4 separate regions of the Homo sapiens genome follow, and all the other regions are linked to region 1. The links come from fine-mapping of genetic effects on gene expression. A gene starts in region 1. Each other region holds a variant in brackets. All regions are shown on one strand. Distances are between the middles of the regions.

Evidence for each region.
Region 2: its variant is fine-mapped to the expression of RGS10 in whole blood (TOPMed, PIP above 0.99).
Region 3: its variant is fine-mapped to the expression of RGS10 in whole blood (TOPMed, PIP 0.96).
Region 4: its variant is fine-mapped to the expression of RGS10 in monocytes after LPS (Kim-Hellmuth 2017, PIP 0.95).

What each region holds. Positions count from the first base shown.
Region 1 is chr10:119,539,457-119,545,196 of GRCh38, reverse strand. RGS10 (regulator of G protein signaling 10) reads left to right here and starts at 2,478. Exons shown (of 5, transcript NM_001005339.2): 1 at 2,478-2,607. The coding sequence starts at 2,559. RefSeq lists enhancers at 715-1,223, 1,486-1,565 and silencers at 1,776-1,935, 1,986-2,055, 2,066-2,805, 2,856-3,025.
Region 2 is chr10:119,579,946-119,585,856 of GRCh38, reverse strand. It overlaps TIAL1 (TIA1 cytotoxic granule associated RNA binding protein like 1), which reads left to right. Exons shown (of 12, transcript NM_003252.4): 3 at 3,300-3,398; 4 at 3,634-3,688; 5 at 3,848-3,935; 6 at 5,847-5,911. Among named protein-coding and RNA genes, the nearest start is that of TIAL1, 14 kb to the left of the region's middle. The variant G/T (reference allele first, on the strand shown) is at 2,982.
Region 3 is chr10:119,488,704-119,494,614 of GRCh38, reverse strand. No RefSeq gene overlaps it. Among named protein-coding and RNA genes, the nearest start is that of RGS10, 51 kb to the left of the region's middle. The variant G/A (reference allele first, on the strand shown) is at 2,951.
Region 4 is chr10:120,351,606-120,357,516 of GRCh38, reverse strand. It overlaps the pseudogene RPL21P16. Among named protein-coding and RNA genes, the nearest start is that of PLPP4, 100 kb to the left of the region's middle. The variant AG/G (reference allele first, on the strand shown) is at 2,873.

The DNA.
Region 1 (5,740 bases):
CCCGGGTTCAAGCGATTCTCCTGCCTCAGCCTCCTGAGTAGCTGGGATTACAGATGCCTGCCACCGCGCCTGGCTAATTTTGTATTTTTAGTAGAGATGAGGTTTCACCATGTTCGTCAGGCTGGTCTCGAACTCCCGACCTCAGGTGATCCGCCCGCCTTGGCCTCCCAAAGTGCTGGGATTACAGGTGTGAACCACCGCACCCGGCCTTTTTTTCCTTTTTTTGGAGACAGAGTCTTGCTCTGTGGCCCAGGCTGGAGTGCAGTGGTGAGATCTCAGCTCACTGCAACCTCCTCCTTCAGATCTTGGCTCACTGCAACCTCCTCCTCCCAGGCTCAAGTGATTCTTCTGTGTCAGCCTCCTGAGTAGCTGGGATTACAGGCACCTGCCACCAGGCCTGGCTAATTTTTGTATTTTTAGTACAGATGGGGCTTCACCATGTTAGCCAGGCTGGTCTTGAACTCCTGACCTCAGGTAATCCGCCTGCCTCTGCCTCCCAAAGTGCTGGGATTACAGACGTGAGCCACAGCGCCTGGCCCTAACTATGCATCTTAATTTTTGTACTTACTCTCTGATGTGCTAACAGGACAGTAAAAGTGATTTAAGGCTGTTATATTTTCCCTTTATTTAAGAGATGCCTGGGGTTCTTAGCTCAGGAGGGATTCATAGCATGTCTTAAGCCACACCAGTGTTTTTCAGGACACGCTAGGGTGGACTTGGCAACTAGCAAAACACTGAGCTGCTGTGCCTAACTTTTACCCCTGTGTGCCAGTGTGCTTATTTCCTGTCTTAGGATTACTTGTAATTTGGTCTCGGGGAAGTTTTCTGGGTGAGTGCGTTGCACCAATTCCCTTATTGTTTTAAGAACGCAGTGACCTCACTTGGATCCAGGACTCTGCCAGCATTTAAAATCCCGCTCTTACGAAAGGTGAAACTCTTGCCTATAGTTAAGTATCACAGCTTGATCCCATTACAATGAGATGGAAGTTTGTCTGGGCCCGGAGTAGGCCAACAACAGCAGTTTTAAAAGCAGAACTCCCCGCGCTGGGTCTAACCCTGTTCTTGGTCACCGCGTTCGCTTCAGGAGCCTGGAAATCCTCTTTTGGCAGCAGAAGGGGGAGAGTGCTTGGAAATGCTCGGAGGAAAACGACTTTTGGAGGGGGAATAGCGGGGAGGGAAACAACAAGCAACCACCGGCCACACTTGGGGTGCAACTGGGGCTGTGGGGTGGGTAGAGGGAGAGGGAAAGTGAGCAGAACTGGAAGCTCAGAATAGAAGATACAAAAGAAAGTGCCAAGTAGTGAAAAAAACTGCAAAAGGACGGGGGGATGGGGGGAGGGCGACTGGGGAACGGTTTGGAAAAATAGCAATTAGTACAGCTAAAAATAAAGACCAATTTAGAGACAAAGCCAGATACACAAGGAGAAAAATAAAACTCGCCAGAAAGACAATTTCTTGCAAACCAAATGTTCAAGAAAATGGGGGCTAATGACATCCCCTCTGGGGCTGCTCCATAGAAGAAATGAAATAATAGGAGACCGTAGAGCGCGCAGCGCCCAGCAGGTGACGCCGTGGGGGCTTGAGTGGTCCCGGTCGTGGAGCCTGAAGGCCCTGCCAGAGGCAGTGCCCACGTGTCCCCAAAGTTAGAGAAGTGTCCCGAGAGCGCGGTGTGCGGGACAGAGCACCGCCCGGCGCAGGAACCGGGGGGTTCCTGCAGAATCCTCTCAGATCTCCCCGAGTCCTGGCGCCCGCGCGGCACGGCCGGGGAGAGGGCGCCCACCCGCGGCGGCTCGGCTAGCTCAGCGCACGGGCCCTGGGGACGCCCCACCCGCATTCGCGGGGCGGGAAGGCGCAGCGCCCACGAAGTCGAGGAGCAGCCAGGCCCCAGCAGGCGGGGATCCTGGTGACGAGGAGGCAAAGGCCACAGGCTGGGCCGCGCCCGGACTCTGCAGAACCGCGAGGCCTAGGCTTCCCAGCCTGTGACCCGGGAGGGGACCCCGCCCGCCACCTGCGAAGGCTCGCTGAGAGCCCCGAAGCGCGGTGCGCCCGCGGCGCCGTGCCAGTTTCTCCGGGGCTACAGGGAGAAGGCGGGAGACCGCGATGGGCCCGGGAGCTTGAAGCTGGGCGGGGCGGGCCGGGGCGGCATCTCAGGCGAGGGCCAGGGACCCCGGGACGCGCTAACCGCCTCCGCGGGGCTACTAAGTTCCCGGCGGCGCGGGCTCCCTCTGGGCCAGTGCACCTTATCCCAGGCGCGGGGCACACTCTGGGCGATCGGGGGTCACCCGGGGCTGCCCTGCCCTGCCCCGCCCGGGCACCCCGGAGCGGAACCGCGAGTCCTCACCAGCGGGGGCGGGCAGGGCGCACTGAGCGCGCCACGCGGCGCCTGGCTAGGAGGAGGGCGGCGGGCGGGGACCTAGAGCTCCGGGGCGGTGCTGAGCCCGCTCCTCCTCCTTGCCCTCCTCCTCCTCCTCCTCGCCCTCCTCCTCCTCCTCGCCTTCCTCCGGCTCAGCCGCCGCGCCGCCGGGCTGCTCCTTCTTCCTCCTCGGGCGCCCGCGGCGATGTTCAACCGCGCCGTGAGCCGGCTGAGCAGGAAGCGGCCGCCGTCAGGTAAGCGGCTTCGGGGGCCCGCGGGCTCGGGGTCGGGGCGCCGTTTCGCCCGCCCGGCCTCCTGCCCTCCCTCTTGTGCTCGGGCGCGGCTCGGTGGTACCTCCCAGACTGGAGCCCCGGCCGACCGCACCACCTCTCCCCGCTGGGTACCGCACCTTCGCGGTCCCAGCCGCGACGGGAGCGCAGAGCTCCTCCGGGAGCCCCGGGGAGGAAGTTTGGCTGAAAGAGGAACAGCCGCAGTTTTCTTTTTAGTGATGGTCTGGGAGAAAAAGGAGCGCCCCAAATCTCCAAACTTTGGAGGTGACATGGGGCTCCAGATTCCGAAAGCGGAACGGCGCGCGGGCTTCTCCCTCCGTGACGCTCTCCGCCTCCGCTGCGGGCGTGGGTGGAAGGATGCCGAGCGCCCGGGGGAGCACGGCTGGACCCGGGCATCCGACTGGGCCCCTGGGCCTGGGGCGTCGGGGGCCTTCGCTTCTGCCGCGAGGAGCCAAAAGGTGGGATCGCGAGGGTGGCGGAACCCCAGGATGGAGAAGGGCACTTCTGCGGTCCGAGCCAGCGAAGTTCTGACGTTACGAAGGATTCGCCTTGGCCGTCACTTTGGGCCAGCCTGAGCCACGATCTCGGGCAACTTGATAGGCCAAAGACCCCACGGTGAAGGTGGAGCCGTGCCCTTGATTCCGGTCCTTCCACCCTTTTGCTCATCACAATAGCTACGACCTGTGCAGGCCTTTGGGTGCGCCAAGGGCTTTGTCCACCGCGTTGGGTGAACTCTCCCTTCACCCCTAGGACAACCCGGTGAGTGAGGAGGGAGCGGAAGCCAGGCGCTGTTAGGTAACTTGCCCCAGTCACACTCCGCAGGTGATGGGGAGGCTTTCAAACCCAGGTTCCCCTGACTCTGAAGTTCGGGGGCTTTGCCGGGCTTCCCACGCCAAGATTCACTTCTGCTTGGCGCTCAGAGTCCCAACGCGTTGGTGCATTTCCTTTCTGCTCCTGGTATTTTATGAGGGACATTGTGGTTTAGAGACTGGGACCAGACTGGCTGGATCCGAATCTCACCTTCGCCATATTCACCAGCCGTGGGACCTTTCTGCAGAATGAGGTTCTGCACAGTGGGAATAACAGTAGCTACTCGCCTTTTAAAGTACTTAATTGGAACCTGTCTTCCATCCATCAGGTTTTGCAAATTATTGTATTTAATATGTAGGATTTCATAGGGTTGTTGTAATGATCTTACATTGTTGCCCGGCAAGTACTAAGTGCTCCGTTAGCGTTAGTGGTCATGTAAACCTTTTTGTGTTGCATGTGAGTCAAAGAATTCCCTTGTGGGTGTTAATGTTAACCAGTCTCTATGGTTGGCACAGGCCTGTGGAGCGCTGCTCAGAGCCTGGACTCGAATTAAACTCTTGGTTCTAACCTTGACTCTGTCATTCAGCAACACTGGGCAAATTACTTGATCTCTCTGTGCCTCCGTTTCAGTGATGTGCTGGAGCTGGCTCAAACTGGCTTGCAAGAGCCAGTTGCCAAATATTCAAAAAGTTTGGAAACTGGTTGTAAACCATAGGTAGCTTGAAAGTAGTTATGATGGGATATTTACATCATGAAAATCAACAAAGCTAAAAATGAAGGCTTCATTTTGACTCAGGAGAGCTGATGTTCCAGCACCTTTCTCCACCTGCAAAGTGGGTTTCATAGGGTTATGGGATTAAATACTCAAAACCATATGAAGCCCCTAGTACAATGTGTGGCACATAATAAAAGTGTAATAATTAGTAGCTTTTCTCCCTTTTGCCTGTTATAAATAGAGCTGCTATGAATAGCCCTGTACGCGTTACTTATTACTTTAGATTGCTTTTGGGTTGAAGACTGACAGATAGAACCATTGTATCCTGGGAGATACATGGATTTGGGGTGATTTTGCGTGTAGCCAGGTTGCACCCCAAAAAGGCTGAAGGCAGTTTTAGGGAACAAATTATTTCAGGGCAACAAATTTTAAACCTCATAAAATGTGGTTACATCACTGACAGAAAGGTCGGTCTCAGGCCGGGCTCAGTGGCTCACACCTGTGATCCCAGCACTTTGGGAGGCTGAGGCAGGAGGATTGCTTGAGCCCAGGAGTTCCAGATAAGCCTGGGAAACATGGCAAAACCCCGTCTCTACAAAAAAATTAAAAAATTAGCCAGGCATGGTGATGCGTGCCTGTAGTCCCAGCTCCTTAGACGGCTGAAGTGAGAGGATGGCTTGAGCCTGGGAGGTTGAGGCTACAGTGAGCTTAGATCGTGCCACTGCACTTCACCCTGGGTGACAGAGTGAGATCCAAAGAAAAGGAAAGAAGGAAGGAAGGGAGGAAGGAAGAAAAAAGGAAGGAAGGAAGGAAGATCAGCCACTAAACATCATGGATTGGTACTGGATGCCTCCACTCCAATAGCCTGATTTTCTTTGGAATTGTAGGTGTAGGGTCTTTCCCCATTATGGAAAATAACATAAGTTCTTGCCTGACTGGTCATCACCACCCAGCCGTGTGAAAAGAAGAAGCCTAGTGAGAAAGGGGTCATTTGGGCCTGTGGGCCGAGGTACTGAGAAGACAGCCAAGTGATTTTTGGGACCCTGTACTTAATTTTTTTTTTTTTTTTGTAATTTTGAATTATTTTTCTTAAAGAGGATCCTCAAATTGTATAAACTTCAGGCTCCACAAAAGCCAGAGCTGCTCCTGCAGGACCCCTGATTTGGACCTGGCTGTGGTCCTGCCTCCCCCAGTACCTTCTATTTTACACTTTTCCTACCTTTCAGCAAAATCTCACTGGAGACACTGTCTTTCCGCGGAGGATTTTGAGTTCCTAACCCCTCCTTCCAAGGTTCAGAGTGGGATTTCCTTATTCTTCCTGAGGTTTCTCAAAGTGTGTTCCACCCGTCCTGTGGGTTCAGGAGGGCTTTGATAAAGTGCAGCTTCTCAGGCCTTGCCCAGACTGATTCAGTGTTGGGGACTGTAGGTGGGGCTTGTCTTTGACAAGCACCCCAGAGAATTCTCAGGCCAGTGAAATGTGAGGGTCCCCCAACGGGATTCTGTCCACTCACCCTGCCCAGTTATCAACCTTGCATTGTTGATAGCTGAAATATGCCCATCTGAGATGCCAAG
Region 2 (5,911 bases), 41 kb before region 1:
GCTTGGAAGTAAAGATTAGGATGGAAAAGGAATCACAGAAGCAGCAGAGAGGTCATTGTTGAGCTCAACATGCAGTTTCAGTGGCATGGTTAGCTTGGAAGCTGACAGAAGTAGGTTTAGGAGAGAACGGGTTGTGAGAAAGTGGGGAAAGACTCACTAGAAAATTTTTGAGAAACATTTGTAAAGATTTATTTTAACTATTTTTTAAAACCCCATGTATACATACAGCTATTTGAAGGGTAGAGGGACTCGAAATGAATTTTCATAACATCCATATTCTAGAACTCCTAGATTTGAGCTTGTAAAGTCTCATATTTCTCTGTCTTGACATTTATGTCATCCAACAAAAATTGGTGACAACGCTAAATAAGGTAGGGACATAACGGATTTTTTTTTTTTTTTTTTAAGAGACAGGGTCTGACTCTGTCCTCCAGGCTGGAGTGCAGTGGCGCCATCATGGCTCACTGCAGCCTCCACCTCCTGGGTTCAAGTGATCCTCCCACCTCAGTCTCCCAAGTAGCTGGGACAGCACCGCCACACCTAGTTCATTTTTAAATGTGTTTGTAGAGATTGGTTTCACCATGTTACCAATGGTCCCGAACTTCTGGCTGGTCCTAAACTCCTAGGCTCAAGTGATCCTCCTGCCTCTGCCTCATCCTCCTAAAGTGCTGAGATTATAGGCATGAGACACTGCACCCAGCCATAATTGATTTTTTTTTTTTTTTTTTTTTTTTGAGATGGAATCTTGCTCTTTTGCCCAGGCTGGAGTGCAATGGCATGATCTCGGCTCACTGCAGCCTTGGCCTCCTGGGTTCAAGTGATTCTCCTGCCTCAGCCTCCCAAGTAGCTGGGACTACAGGTGCGTGCCATCATGCCCAGCTAATATTTTTTATTTTTTTATTTTTTGTATTTTTAATAGAGACAAGGTTTCACCATATTAGCCAGGATGGTCTTGATCTTCTGACCTCGTGAACCGCCCACCTCGCCCTCCCAAAGTGCTTGGGTTACAGGCGTGAGCACTTTTTTTTGAGACAGAGTCTGGCTCTGTTGCCCGGGCTGGAGTGCAGTGGCACGATCTTGGCTCACTGCAACCTCTGCCTCCCAGGTTCAAACGATTCTCCTGCCTCAGCCTCCTGAGTAGCTGGGATTACAGGCGCCCGCCACCACACCCAGCTAATTTTTTGTATTTTTGGTAGAGATGGGGGTCTCACCATGTTGGTCAGGCTGGTCTCGAACTCCTGACCTCAAGTGATCCAGCTGCCTCAGCCTTCCAAAGTGCTGGGATTACAGGTGTGAGCCACTGCACCCAGCCCATAATTGATTTTTAGGATGTCACTTGGTGGTGTAAATAAGAAGCTTCCAGAGGGTATAAACTCTAGCAGAGTATCTAGCAGCTATTTATTTTTCTTTCATAAATTTCATTTCAGTATGTGAAAAATCCTTTTTCCCCCATAGTTTTATGATTTTTTTTTTACTTTAGATGTTGTTATCATAGATTCTAGCTTTCCTTATATAATACAAATATATATTATTGATTCTAAGTCAAATTTTTTTAGAATTTTAATATCTGACAGTTGGGATGTGACTTAGAAATAAGTGGTGTCTTAAATTAGATGATATGCAGTGTGATGTGAATATATAAAATATGTGATGTCAGTGAATATATGTGTATATATACATGCACGTGCATACATTGATTGGGAGCTGGCCTACTATTAGATAGATTTGAAATTGGTATTCACGAGTAGACTAGTTTCCTAAAGTGTATGGGATTATCATAGATCTGCTGTTGGACCCCTGTATGTTTTGCTGTGATTATCAGTGTTTTCCTTAGAGACCATTGGGGCAAAAGAGATAGGAGTGAAAGGAAAACTCAACTAGCACAATTTTAGCCTCTTATTTATTTTGATGTCCTTTCTTCAATGAATATTTATGGTAAATGTAATAACTCTTTTACAAGAATTTAAATGTGTGTTTTCATTTGAAGTCTTCCCCCATTTCCTTTCTTTACCTCTTAAGAACAGCATTCACGTGGCTACAACAGTAGGATTTTGTATGAGAGCCCATAGTTTTGTTGTCAGTATTAACGATCCCACTTTTTTTCCCTCAAGGAAATGCCTTCTGGTTCCTTTGCCACTATTGTTTAGACGTCTTATTTTGGATTTTTCTTCTAAAACTTTCCTGGAATGAAAAACTGTTGTGGTTGAAAAGATCTTTATTTTATCTGGTATATTTATCCCTTGTAAGTCCAACTAGAATTCCACATTTTAAATATTATTCTTATAGGGCATTTTACATTGAATAATGATGAATGTTTTTAGCCTTACATAAAAATATGTATTTGTACAGTTGTGCAGCTATTCAGTACAGGTTGCAGTTTCATAGAAATTCATTTCTAGTTTGGTTGTCAGGTGAGAATGTTGCTATAGCTTAGGTAGTACTACTTTCTTCACATCTTTATAAATGTGTTTTAGGTAACTACTGTCAAGCACAGGGTTGCAGAATATATTTAATATAGATTTTTTATATGGTGTTCTTATGATGTAAACTTATAGCTTTGTCTTGGAATATTTTATTCAGATACATTTTCAGAACCTCTTTTCTTGATCACCACTGTTATTTCTCTGATCTTTGGAAGACCAAATTCAAAGTATATAGAATCTTCAGTACATTAGACTATTTTGGAAGGTAGGGAATTCATTTCAGTAGCTGGTTATAAAGCTTAAGTTTTCTTGTTTTTATTTTCATTCTTTCCATATCCAGAAAAGAAATCAATAAAATTCAGTCTTTGTAGCAGCATAGAATTCCATCATTTGTAGTATTGATCCTAATTTTGATCAGTAGTTTATGAAGTTGGTTCTTGCTGTATTTCTGTATCCTGGGATACCACTTATAGAGGATTATGATGCATAAGTAGAACGTAATTTAAAAATAATATTGGAGAAGGAAAGTAGTGGTAAGGAGTGGTCCTCATCAGATCT[G/T]AGTTTGAGGTTTTGTTTGGTTTAATATAATCTTCTATTTTATATTTAACACACTTCACCAGAATTCTTTATTTTCATTTAATACTGATGCTCATGATTCTACAACTGCTTTTATAGTTCCGTTTGAGTTCAGCAGTATTCTGAGGTGCAAAGTCAGGTTTAGCTTTAAATCTTATTTAAAAAGTGTTAGGCTTTCATAAGCTTATGCAGTCTCACCTTGTATATTCCCAGCTATCAGTAATGTTTTTTCCTGGATTTTCTTCTCAGCAACCCGATAGCAGAAGGGTCAACTCTTCTGTTGGATTTTCTGTTTTGCAGCATACAAGCAATGACCCATATTGCTTTGTGGAATTTTATGAACACAGAGATGCAGCTGCTGCATTAGCTGCTATGAATGGGAGAAAAATTTTGGGAAAGGTAAGATAATAGGATGATGGCACCTTATGAGTACATATATTTGCATGTCAAACTAGTTTGTATTCTTTCTAGGCAAATTTTTGAGCAGATATTCGGCTGCTGAGTGATGGTTTTGCTTTATTCAGCTTAGTGCTTTTACAAAAATAACCCTGCTTGATAAATGATTTAATAAGTGGTAAGTGTTGTAACTCATGACATGCCTAATAATTTTATTAAATATAATCTTTATTTTTAGGAGGTCAAAGTAAACTGGGCAACCACACCAAGTAGCCAGAAAAAAGATACTTCCAGTAAGTACTCCTGCTGCATTTTACTGTGGAAGAGTTCTGAAATTATCCAGGAGGCATTACCAGCTTAAATAGGTTTTTTTTTCCTCCTCTAGAGTTGCCTTAAAAAGGTTTTAGTGGCTGACTTCTTAAGTATTTGATTACCAAATGCTCTGATTTCAGATCACTTCCATGTGTTTGTTGGGGATTTGAGTCCAGAAATTACAACAGAAGATATCAAATCAGCATTTGCCCCCTTTGGTAAAATATCGTAAGTATCATAATCAGTACTACACTCAGTCATGATAGGCAGAATTGTATATGATTAACTTGTAATTGAATTAAGATTTTCTTTCTCTAGTTAGTATGGTTTTGTTTTGTTTCTTATTTTTCATTTATTTATTTTGGTTTGTTTTGAGTAGTGGATGTTGTTGAAAATGTTAATGTCATTTCAGTGTCTTGGGGTCTCGTTTTCATCTAATCCTGTGTATAATATGTTAAAAAAAATTTAAGTGATTCTGTTTGTTATCTTTGAAGCAGATGTTTGAATGGTAAAACTTATAAAGTCTAGCTTTTTGTCATATGTTTTCAAAATTTGATGGTTTAGGATAATGAGTTAATCAAAAGTAAATGTGATCTATACTGTGTAAGAGTTCAATAACTTTTATAGGAGGAATTTATAAATGGGGGAGAGTAGGTAAATCCTTGGATATATTGTGATTAAATTGGAAATGTTCATGTTTTATTATGATAAATGTGTTTTTGATATTTTAGCTATAAGTGAAAAGTACTATTATACTATTAAAATGTTTCAATGTATGAGTCATAAATGTGGGATTAATTAGATGTTTTTGTTAGTGATATTTGATTCTACTAGTTAAGAGGCAAATGTGGTTTGATTTTTAACAAATTTATGCTCAGATTTTACTGTTGTTACTTGGTAAAAAATATATTGGAAAACTAAAAATGGTTATGAATTGTAGAAAATGTTTATCATAATTTATCTTTCTGATTAAAATCAGTTTATTTTGTATATTTCCTGTAGATTTAAATTAAACATCTTAGTACTACTTTACAGGAAAGTGTTTCAACTAAGAACAACAATATTTTCTCTATACAATTTGTTGTTCTATAGATTTAATTTCTTTAAAAGATGTAATTCTTAACTTTCTGTTTTGATATTTGCTTTGCTTTTTAATCTAAATGTGGTAAGTAGTACTATTTTAAAAATCAATATAAAAATAATACAGGTTGCTGTTTTTCAATCTTTATTTATACCTGAGACCTGCAGTTTTTCTTAAGTCCAAGTCACAATTAAAAGTAATAGCATTCTGGTTATTTTGCAGAATTGCTCATAAGAATGGACAGGATCTTGAAGGCTAACTGCAAGGAACTGTGCACACTGGAACTCAGTTGTAGATTTTTTTTCTCATTTCTATTTATTCTTATTATACATTATTTATATATACATATTTTAGTATTTACATTTTAACATTCTATATTCAGTGGAGTTCTATATTTCCAATCATTTAACTTACTCACTAAAATTTCTGTGTAAATTTGTTGTTTTCGTACTGGTGTGCTTAGCATTGTTGTTAGTTTTTTATTCTCCTTTCTTAAATTTCTGAAAATGTCAATTTTTCAAAATTTACAGCTGCCCAAACTCCAAAATGATGGTAGAGAATTGACCAAGAAAAATAAAGAAATCTGTTAACAGGCCATGTATGCCTTTTTAATTCCTATTTTTTCCTCTTTTTCAATTTTTTAATATTTCATATATTTTGTATCACTAGGCAGAAGACATTTAACTATTTAGAGATTGCATGGTAAAGTAGTTAGTATTGTTACAGTAATTTATAGAATCAGTAAACCTTAGAGGACACTAGTAAATAGAATATTAGAAAGGGAAACTGTTGTTCCTATTAATCTTCAAATTTGAGCATTTAGTTTAGAAAGCACAGGCTATTTGATTAGGTTGCATGTTTATTACATGTTTTTGTCCTACTGCTTTTTTCTAACAGGTAAAGAAGCATTAGGGAGAGTTCAGGAATGGTTGTAGTTAATTAGGGCTAACTGGAATTTTATTTTAAAAATGCTCACAATACAGTGTGTGTGGTTCCTTTTAGTTTTTATTTTGAGGGTGGCTCTTACTTCCCTCATTTAGCTGTGCTTCTTTTCACAGGGATGCCCGGGTAGTTAAAGACATGGCAACTGGAAAATCCAAAGGCTATGGTTTTGTATCTTTTT
Region 3 (5,911 bases), 51 kb after region 1:
TGTTCTAGAACTTGCATTTATTTAAGTGCTAAATAGTCTTGTAACATTAGCTTCCAGGGTTTTAAAAACTCTTTTCTTCACAAGGTTAGTTGCGTCCAATGCAGTGAGTACTGTAAAAAGTCTGGTGCCCAGGCAGGGAGGGAAGAAACTTCACACACAGCTGGAGCCAGGGGTAGAATCACTGTGTTGAAATGGTCCCTAAACCTTGGGCAGAGCCCAGGGCTCCCCTTGGATTGCCACAGACACTACAAGCTTTGCAAGTCCAAAATTGACCAGGTCTCTGAGTGAGAATCAGGGGCTTGAGCAACTTCGCACTTGCAAGGGAGGGTCTCAGGGTGAGGGTCTTGCACGGGTGCCCTGTGCTGCATGCTTGTTTAGAGGAGCCCTTTTCCTGATTCCCACAAGGCCACTGGGTAGGGGCAGCTGGAAGTGGCCTGAGAGTCTCCTCTGTCCTGCACTTCGACATCTGATCATCAGAAAGTCCTCTAGATTCTTCTCCAAAATATAGCTTCACCGTGTCCATGCCTGCCATCTCCATGGCCACGGGCCCTGACCAGGTCACCTCATCTCTTGCCCAGAGGCTCCTCCTCCTAGCTGGTCTGTCCTCCTCACGCCACACCCCTGCTCCTCATCTTCATCTAGTATCCTTCTTTTTTTTTTTTTAAGAGACATGGTCTCACTCTGTTGCCCAGGCTGGAGGGCAGTGGTGTGATCATAGCTCACTGCAGCCTCAAACCCCTGGGCTCCAGTGATCCTCCCACCTCAGCCTCCTGAGTAGCTGGTGCTATAGGCACACACCACCACACCTGGCTAATTTGTTATATATATGTGTGTGTGTGTGTGTGTGTGTGTGTGTGTATGTGTGTGTGTATATAATATATATATATATATATATATTTTTTTTTTTTTTTGTATAGATGGGGGTCTCCCTATGTTGCCCAGGCTGGTCTTGAACTCCTCACCCTAAGCGATCCTCCAGCCTTGGCCTCCTAGAGTGCCGGGATTACAGGTGTGAGCCATCGCGTCTGGCCTAGTATCCAGTTTTTTAAAAGAACAAACCTGGTCATGCTGCTCACTCTTCTTAAGCCCCTTTTGTGTCTTTTTCTTGTTCTCAACATCAAAATTCAGATCATAACCAAGGCCCGGGACATGTAGCTCAGTCCCACCTCACCCTCCATCCTCCACGACTGGCCCTTCCCAGCCTCACAGGCCTGAAGCCGACCGGAAGCAAGGCAGGATGTTGCTTCCCGCAGCCTTTGCGTGGGCCACGGCCAATGCGCAGAGTGGCTTCCTCCAGACCCTGGTGTGGCCGGCTCCTTCTCATCCTTCAGGTCTCAGGCTGTGTGTTAGCTCCTGAGGAGGGGACCGAACCCCTCGAGGCAGCCCCTTCCCCCTCATTCACAGCCTGCCACCCCAGGGCTGCCCATTGCTCATGGCCAATCCATGCCTTTGTCATAAAAACACAGATTGGAGGCCGGGCGCAGTGGCTCATTCCTGTAATCCCAGCATTTTAGGAGACTGAGACGGGCAGATCACTTGACGTCAGGAGTTCTAGACCAGCCTAGTCAACATGGTGAAACCCCGTCTCTACTAAAAATACAAAAATTAGCCGGGCGTGGTGGTGGATGTCTGTAATCCCAGCTACTTGGGAGGCTGAGGCAGGAGAATTGCTTGAACCTAGCAGGCAGAGGTTGCAGTGAGCCAAGATTGTGCTACTGCACTCCAGCCTGGGAGACACAGTGAGACTCCATCTCAAAAAAAAAAAAAACAATAAAAAAAACACAGATTGGAGGGAGAGAAGCCCACCCTTTCATGAGCACCTCCCCTGTGTGCAGGAGATGTGACTTCCACTGTGTCAGTGGAGAAGTGAGCTCCAGCAGCATTGAAACTGCACTAGGTCACCACGACTCATAGTGGGGCTAGGACTGGAACCCAGGTCTTTTGGATCCCCAGAGCCCACCATCCATCACTACACCAGGCTGGGCTTATCCAGCTCAGGCAAATCTTTGGTCATTCCTGCTGGAAAATGTGACTCTGTCTCTGTTCTCCCAGGAAGAAGGCTACTACCCAGCCAGTCTTGGCCCATTCTACCCTTTCCTCTATGGGATACACAGAGGGCCCCGGCCCCAGCCAGGGAGGCAGAGTCAATGCTTCTTTAAAAAGCCTAGTTTGTGTTTGCAACCAGTTTTGTTTTTTGTTTTTTGTTTTTCCTTTAGTGATATATCATGAGCATCTTTCCATGCCAATAAACATAATTATATACAATCCAAAAAAAAAGGCCTGTTTTGAGATTATCTAGGAAAGATAAATGTTTCCCTTGTGCTAATTCCAGCACCGTTTATATGCTGCTTTGCAACACAGGCAAACTGTTTTCTTCTTCTTTAAGCATTTAAACTCTGTTTTTTAAACTGTTATGGCATACAGATCGCAAAGAGTAACAGATGTCTGCCTGATAGACTTGTTTCCCAGGAAAAGAATCTGCTGCTTCTTGGTCTCCAGAGGAAGGATGACTTTGCAAGTATGTGGCTTTTGGTCTCCTTCTGCCCCTCTCACCCCCATAAGAATGGGGGAAGAAATAGAGCACCGCAGACTGCCTCATAAATATCTGTGTCTACAGATCCTGGCTGATTGCAGAGGCAGAGGCGAGACTCTGATCTCCCAGGAGGCTGTCCCTGTGCCTCCCAAAGGGAATATTTCTCTCTTTTTTCCTAAAGGAGCGAGGTCACTCATCATGACCTGAAAACATGAAAATGTGGGTCCACCTTTACTAAATTTGCAGGTTTCCCCAGAACCTTAGCACTAAAAGAACCTCTGTCAACTATCATCATCATTATTATTATTTTTGAGATGGAGTCATGCTCTGTCACCCAGACTGGAGGGCAGCAGTGCACTCTTCGCTCACTGCAACCTCTGCTTCTGGGTTCAAGCAATTCTCCTGCCTCAGCCTCCC[G/A]AGTAGCTGGGATTACAGGTGTGCGCCACCACGCCCGGCCAATTTTTGTAGCATTCGAAGAGATGGCGTTTCACCATGTTGGCCAGGCTGGTCTCAAACTCCTGACTTCAAGTGATCCACCCACCTCAGCCTCCCAAAGTGCTGGGATTACAGACACGAGCCACTGCGCCTAGCCTCATTATTTGTTTATTATTATTATTTTACTATTGGTTAGCATGAGAATTGTGGTTATGTTCATGTCATGAAGTTCAACTGCCTAAATTCTATCCCAGCTCCGTCGCTTATTAGCCCTGTGAGCTTGCGTAAGCCATCATGGATCTTTTCAAGCCCAAGTTTTCTCAATTATTAGATGGGATAATATTGGTCCCTATGCCTTAGTCTGTTTCATCTGCTATAACAAAATACCTGGGTAACTCAAAAACAACAGATATTTATTGCTCACAGTTCTGGAGGCTGGGAAGCCCAAGATTAAAGACACTGACAGATGAGGTGTTTGGTGAGAGCCTGTTTCTCATCCATGGTGCCTTTTATGTCCTCACATGCTGGGCACATGCTCAGCTGGAAAGGGCAAGCAAGTTCCCTAGGGTCTCTGAGCACTGATTCCCATTCATTCAGGTGCCGACCCAGAGCCTTCATGACCTAATCACCCGCGAAAGGCCCTGCCTCTTTTTTTTTTTGAGATGGAGTCTCGCTCTGTCACCCAAGCTGGAGTGCAGTGGCATGATATGGGCTCACTGCAACCTCTGCCTCCTGGGTTCAAGCGATTCTCCTGCCTCAGCCTCCTGAGTAGCTGGGATTACAGGCATGCGCCACCACGCCTGGCTAATTTTTGTATTTTTGGTAGAGAGGAGGTTTTGCCATGTTGGCCAGGGTGGTCTCGAACTCCTGACCTCAAGTGATCCGCCCGCCTTGGCCTCCCAAAGTGCTGGGATTACAGGTGTGAGCCACTGTGCCCCAGCCGGCCCTGCCTCTTGATATCATCACACTGGGGACTCGGTTTCAACATGTGAATTTGGGGCGGGGGTCGGGGGCGGCACAAACATTCAGACGCTAGCACTATATAAAATCCAATGAGATAATACATGCAATGTGCGCAGCACAGTGCCTTGCGCACAGCGGCTTAATAAACCTTGGTGATTATTATGAGGCCACCAAACCAGGGATAGGTCGTGTGGTCTGCCTAAGGTGCGCAGGGAAGGGTAGCAGATCCCGGCCGGGTCTGACTCCTGGATCCTTGCCTGGGACTCTTTCACTGTCCCCCCAGTCCCCCGCACACACATGCACACGATGTTACCCCGCGTTCGAGTCGTGATCGACGGGCAGCCAGCTGGACCTGAATGTCATTCAAATGATTGCAGGCTCGAAACCAGGGGTGGGGGGGCTCTCAGGAGAGGATTTGGGCCCAGAAGGGGACATGCAGGGGGAAGCCAGAGAAGTGAGAGGGAGATCTGAGTGGTGGGTGCCCCAGCAGCGTAATATGGCTCCATTTCCAACCTGGAACCAGGTTGTTGCCTCTCCAGACATTTTGTGTCCGAAGGAAGGGGAAGGGAATTCAGTAGACATTCTTTGGAGGAGCCTCTTGGACTTCGGTGACTTTTTCTTGACAAGAACCATGGTCTCCTAGGGCAGAGCTGCCCACATGCTTTTCTGGGAGGTCCCGGGCTCCCCAGGCTCCTTGGAGTAGAAGGAAGTCTGGGGACCCCCGAGAGCCTGCCTGAAATTCCTGGCTTGAGCTCACGGGGGAGCTGGTGAGCTGTGGAGGGAGGCAGCTCCCGGGGTTCTTGCGGGTCCCTGCAGCACGGGAGGACCCTCCAAGGCCCTGGGCACCCATCCTGGTCAGACCGTCCCCTCCCACCAACTTTTCTCCTTGTCTCTCCCAGAAGGGTGCCCTGGGGAGACCCTCTCCCCAGAGGCTGGGACTGGGCAGGAAGGTGGGGCAGCTGCTCCCATCCTTTCTGCCCCGCACAGTTCAGGCAGTTCATCTTCGGGCAGGAAGATGAGGTTTCGAGGTACTTCCTGGGCTTGCGCTGACGTTTTTGACTACCGTCCCCGCCCCCACCCCGCCCCACTCTCTAGTTTGGCCTCTGCTGGCTCCAAAACCCTCTCAAATATCCCACGAGGGTCATTAGTGGGAGACCTTTGTTCAGTTCATTCATTTTTTAAATCAATGCTATATATTTTTTTAATGCTCGGAAACAGTGTTTTGATGTGAGTTTATTACTTGAAGAACTGCAGGACTTTGTACAACAAACTGCCTGATACTAAAGTTATATTAACAAAGAGATCAAGAAATGACTGGCTGTGTGCACAGAGGCTTAAAGGTTTAGTGTGGCTGAGATACTAAACGTCTCTCTTTCCCACCACTTTATTTTATTTTTATTTTTGAGACAGAGTCTTGCTCTGTCACCCAGGCTGGAGTGCAGTGGCATGATCTTGGCTCACTGCGACCTCCATCTCCTGGGTTCTCATGCCTCAGCCTCCCAAGTAGCTGGGATTATAGGCGCATGCCACCATGCCTGGCTAATTTTTGTATTTTTAGTACAGATGGGGTTTCATCTTGTTGGCTAGGCTGGTCTCAAACTCCTGACCTCAGGTGATCCACCCGACTCAGCCTCCCAAAGTGATGGGATTACAGGTGTGAAGCACTGCACCCAGCCTCCCATCACTTTATTTTAAAAGTGTATTTCCAAATCCTCGTCTTCTACCTCGGGGTGGTCGTTCCAAAATGTTTTATTTCTGAAGCTTCCCAGATAAGCAGCTACAATTTCACTCTTTCCTCCCCAGCTCACTGGGATGCATTTTTTCTTCTTCTTTTTTTTTTTTTTTTTTTTTTTGGTGGAAGGAATTTTTTTTAAAAAAACTAAGACGTACCTAATTTCAGTAAAGAGTAAAGTACACAAATCTTAAGTGGAGAGCTCTATGGATGTCTCCATTTGTCTACACACTCATAACTACCACCGC
Region 4 (5,911 bases), 810 kb before region 1:
TAATCTCAGCACTTTCGGAGACCGAGGCGGGCAGATCACGAGGTCAGGAGCTCGAGACCGTCCTGGCTAACACGGTGAAACCCCATCTCTACTAAAAATACAAAAAATTAGCCAGGTGTGCTGGCGGGCGCCTGTTGTCCCAGCTACTCAGGAGGCTGAGGCAGGAGAATAGCGTGAACCTGGGAGGCGGAGCTTGCAGTGAGCCGAGATCGCGCCACTGCACTCCAGCCTGGGCGACAGAACGAGACCCTGTCTCAAACAAACAAACAAAAAAGAACATAAACCTCAAGGAAAGAAATCCCAGCTTCAGATCTCTGAAGAATAAGTATGGTACGGAATATCATTCCATTATCTCAGCTACTTTCCCTCAGTGAAAACTTTCATCAGAATTCCAACCACGTTTTAATATCTGTGTTTAAATGAATATGAAATAATTTAAATATAAATCAAGTGAGGTCATTGAAAGTTGAGACTCAAATCAGGCAATGTACAGGGAAGGCTGGAACTGTCTAGTATATGAAGGTTATCTGAGACTATCAGTCAAGGCTCTCCAGAGAAATAGAGCCAGTAGGATAGATATAAATAGACATACACATGTATACACATACAAATGCATATAATAATTAAAGAGATTTATTTATTTTAAGGAATTGGCTCATTTGATTGCGGGGCCTCACAAGTCTGAAATTGACGTGGTCAGTAGGATAGAAGCTCAGGCAGGAACTGATGCTGCAGTATTGAGACAGAATTTTCCCTCTGGGAAATCTCAGTTTTTGCTCTTAAGGAAATCCCCTTATTTGAAGCCAATTGCTTATAGATGCTAACTACATCTACAAAATACCTTCATGACAACACCTAAACTACTGTTTTGGTTAAATAATTGGGTACTATGTCCTAGGCAAGTTGACACATAAACTGACCCTCACAGAGACGTAGCAGGTCCCTGGGATTCTTTTTAAGGATTTCCTCCATGCCATAATCCAGCCAAGTGAATTATTTTTCAAACTACAGGGATTATAAAAAATAATTTGATTAATCACATTCCTCCACTGCATTCATTTTGTCAAATATACTTGTAACTTTACATATGTAGATATACATATATACATCTATGCATATATATACACATATATATATGACTCAGGCATCCATTCGTGCACACACATATACAAACACACATATATATCTAGTATGATACAACATCACTTTCAAATGCACTCCACATGCATCCAAATGGATTCCAAAAACCCTTTTCCTGCTCATTTGCACTCCAAACTAGCTGTACTTTATGTGAACATTTTAAATTACTTTTCCTATAGATGATGCTGTTGGGTTCATTACATCTCCCTTTTCTTGTCACAATGGTGATATTCAACTTGGATTTTCATTACAAGCCATTTTCTGGTTATTGTTTAGAGCCTGGAAACTAATCTGCTCTCTGCCTGTCCCTCAGACATCAATGGTTTTGCCATATTGAAATGCAAAAAGAGAAACAAAATATGCTATTTCATATGTAAGTTGTGACTATAGGGCAATAGGAAGTTTGTTGTCAATTAGCCTTTCATTTAATTACTTTGGCAAATGTGATTTTTTAAAAAACTAGACAAGAAAATCAGTTCCTGCTTCTCAACAATGAACATGGGTCGGACCACTATTACACAACACTTCTAAGAGATGAAGCACAGTGGGTCTTAATTTCTAGTATTTCCAGAGAGCTTATTTTTGAATGAAAAATAACAAAAAACCCCATCAGTGGAATTCCTTACTCAACCAATCCCCTTTTATTTATTTCTTCCAGACAGTATGATGACCATTCTGTTAGCTAATACCCTGGATGAGCTGTAATTCAGAGCGATTTAATTAGCTTTAATAATAGCATCCATGCTTAGTCCTTCTGAAGATTCATTGCAACATGAGGGCATAAATTGGCAAATGTCTACAGTAGGGAATGCCTGGTTATAACTCTCACCTCTGGACTCTCATAAATTCAAAACAGCAGTATCAGTCTCTTCCATCTTCAGTTTTCAATGGATTTTTCTCTCTCAACTTTCCAGGTGACGAATGACACCTTCTTTGGTCTATCTAATACTCAACCTACTGATATTGTTGCAGAAACAAACTTCCCTGGTTTATCCAAAGCATATTTCTCTGCTTTGAACTGATATTTATGTAGGCCCTTTTCATGTGAATAAAAAGTTTGCTAGAACAGACATAATCTAAATCCATGTTTACCTGTGATTTGCCTTGAAGAAAGCCAAATGGTTTGTCTGCCTCAGCTCAAGAATGAACTTTCCCTTTCGGCCGGAACCGCCATCTTCCAGTAATTCGCCAAAATGACGAACACAAAGGGAAAGAGGAGAGGCACCCGATATATGTTCTCTAGGCCTTTTAGAAAACATGGAGTTGTTCCTTTGGCCACATATATGCGAATCTATAAGAAAGGTGATATTGTAGACATCAAGGGAATGGGTACTGTTCAAAAAGGAATGCCCCACAAGTGTTACCATGGCAAAACTGGAAGAGTCTACAATGTTACCCAGCATGCTGTTGGCATTGTTGTAAACAAACAAGTTAAGGGCAAGATTCTTGCCAAGAGAATTAATGTGCGTATTGAGCACATTAAGCACTCTAAGAGCCGAGATAGCTTCCTGAAACGTGTGAAGGAAAATGATCAGAAAAAGAAAGAAGCCAAAGAGAAAGGTACCTGGGTTCAACTAAAGCGCCAGCCTGCTCCACCCAGAGAAGCACACTTTGTGAGAACCAATGGGAAGGAGCCTGAGCTGCTGGAACCTATTCCCTATGAATTCATGGCATAATAGGTGTTAAAAAAAAAAATAAAGGACCTCTGGGCTACAAAAAAAAAAAAAAAAAA[AG/G]AATGAACTTTCAACTCTTTTCGCTTGGGAAGAAAATGTTCCAGATCATTGGATCATTTTTGTTTGTTTGTTTGTTTAATAATTTGGAGTTATTTTTATTCAATGATTTCTACTTAATCTGGAAAATAATGAAAGCTTTTGTAATGAGACAATATTTAGAAAGATTAACCAGTTTATATATTTGTCAATGGTTTTAAGAAAACAATTGGAAGGTGAATTTAAAAATAGAATGACTCCACAGATGCTTGCAATCCTCTCCAGCATTTCTTCTTGCCTGAATTTTGGGGAAAACAAAAAGCCATTTTAACTGGGGTAAGATGATACCTCGTTGTAGTTTTGATTTGCATTTCTCTGATGATCTATGATATTGAGCACGTTTTCATATACCTGTTTGTCATTTGTATGTCTTCTTTTGAGAAGTGCTTATACAGATCTTTTGCCCATATTTTAATTGGATTATTAGATTTTTCATATAGAGTTTGAGCTCCTTATGTATTCTGGTTATTAATCCCTTGTCAGATGGGTAGTTTGAAAATATTTTCTCTCATTCTTTAGGTTGCCTTTTCACTTCGTTGACTGCTTCCTTTGCTGTGCAGAAGCTTTTTAACTTGATGAGATCCCATTTGTCCATTTTTGCTTTGGTTGCCTAGGCTTGTGGGTTATTACTCAAGAAATCTTTGCCCATTCCAATGTCCTGGAGAGTTTCCCCAATATTTTCTCTTGGTAGCTTCATAGTTGGAGGTCTTAGTCTTTAGTCTTTATTTTGATTTGATTTTTGTCTACGGAAAGAGATAGAGTTCTAGTTCATTCTTTTGTAGATGGATATTCAGTTTTCCCAGCATCATTTATTGAAGAGACTGTCTTTTTCCCAGTGTAGGTTCTTGGCACCTTTGTCAAAAATGAGTTCACTGTAGATGTATGGATTTATTACTGGGTTCTCTATTCTATTCCATTGGTCTATGTGTTTGTTTTATTGCCCATACCATGCCATTTTGGTTACTATAGCTCTGTGGTGTAATTTAAAGTCAGGTAATGTAATTCCTCCAGTTTTGTACTTTTTGCATTTGGATAACTTTGGCTATTCTGGGTCTTTTGTGGTTCCACATAAATTTTAGAATTCTTTTCCCTATTTCCATGAAGAAGAATGTTATTGATGTTTTGACAGGAATTACATTAAATCTGTAGATTGTTTTGGGTAGTATGGACATTTTAACAATATTGATTCTTCCAATCCATGAACATGGAATCTTTTTCCATTTTTTAGTATCTTCAATTTCTTGCAATGTTTTATAGTTTTCATTGTAGAGATCTTTTACTTCTTTGCTTAAGTTAATTCCTAGGTATTTTATTTTATTTGTAGCTATTGTGAATGGGGTTGCTTTCTTGATTTCTGTTTCAGATTGTTCACTGTTGGCATATAGAAATGTTACTGATTTTTGTACGTTGATTTTGTATCCTGCAACTTTACTGAATTTGTTTATCAGTTCTAATAGTCTTTTGGTGGAGCCTTTAGGTTTTTCCAAATACAAGATCATATTATCTGCAAATAAGAATAATTTGACTTCTTCATTTCCAATCCAGATAGATGCTCTTCATTATTTCTCTTGTATGCCTTGCTCTATCTAAGGCTTCCAGTACTATGTTGAATAACAGTGGTAAATGTGGGCATCCTTGTCATGTTCCCAATCTTAGAAGAAAGACTTCCAGTTTTTCCTCATTCAGTATGATAGTAGCTATGGGTCTATTGTATATGGCTTTTGTTACACTGAGGTATGTTCATTCTATACCCAGTTTTTTTTTTTTAGAGTTTTTATCATGAAGGGATGTTGAGCCTTACCAAATGTTTTTTCAGCATCAACTGAAATGATCATATAGTTTTTGTCCTTCATTCTGTTGATATGAAGTATCACATTAATTGATTTGCATATGTTGAACCATCCTTGCATCCCTAGGATAAATCCCATTTGGTCATGAAGAACAATCTTTTTAATATGTTGCTGAATTCAATTTGCTAAGCATTTTGTTGAGGATTTTTGCATCAGTATTCATCAGGCATATTGACCTGTAGTTTTCTTTTTCTGCTGTGCCTGTGTCTGGTTTTGGTATCAGGATGATACTGGCCTCATGACATGAGTTTGAAAGTATTCCCCCCTCCTGCATTTTTTGGAATAGTTTGAGTAGGATTGGTACTAGTTCTTCTTTAAAAGTTTGGTATGGGCCAAGGGCAGTGGCTCATGCCTGTAATCCCAGCACTTTGGGAAGCCAAGGAGGGCAGATCACCAGAGTTCAGGAGTTCAAGACCAGCCTGCCCAACATGGTGAAAACCCATCTCTACTAAAAATACAAAAAAACAAAAAAATTACTACTCCTGCCTCAGCCTCCCGAGTAGCTGGGTTTACAGGTGTGTGCTGGGCATGGTGGTGTGCACCTGTGTAATCCCAGCTACTTAGGAGGCTGAGGCAGGAGAATTATTTGAACCTGGGAGATGGAAGTTGCAGTGAGCCAAGATGGCGCCACTGCACTCCCTCCTGGGCAACACAGTGAGACTCCATCTCAAAAAAAAAAAAAAAAAGTGTGGTAGAATTCAGCAGTGAAGCTATCAGGTTCTGGGCTTTTCTTTGCTGAAAGACATTTTATTATGACCTTGATCTCATTACCTGTCATTGGTCTTTTCAGGTTTTGAATTTTTTCATGGTTCAGTCTTGGTAAGTTGTATGTGTCTAGGAATTTATACATTTCTTCTAGATTTCCAAATTTATTGGCATATAGTTGCTCATAGTTGCCACTAACAATCCTTTGAATTTCTGTGGTATCAGTTGTAATGTCTCCTTTTTCATCTCTGATTTTGTTGAGTCTAATGTCTCTCTTTTTCTTAATTAGTCTAGCTAATGGTTTATCAATTTTGTTTATCTTTTCAGAAAAAAGCAACATTTTGTTCTGTTGATTTTTTGTTTTCTTCATTTCAAATTCATTTATTTCTGCTGTAACCTTTATTATTTATTTTCTTCCACTAATTTTGGATTTGGTTTGCTTTTGCT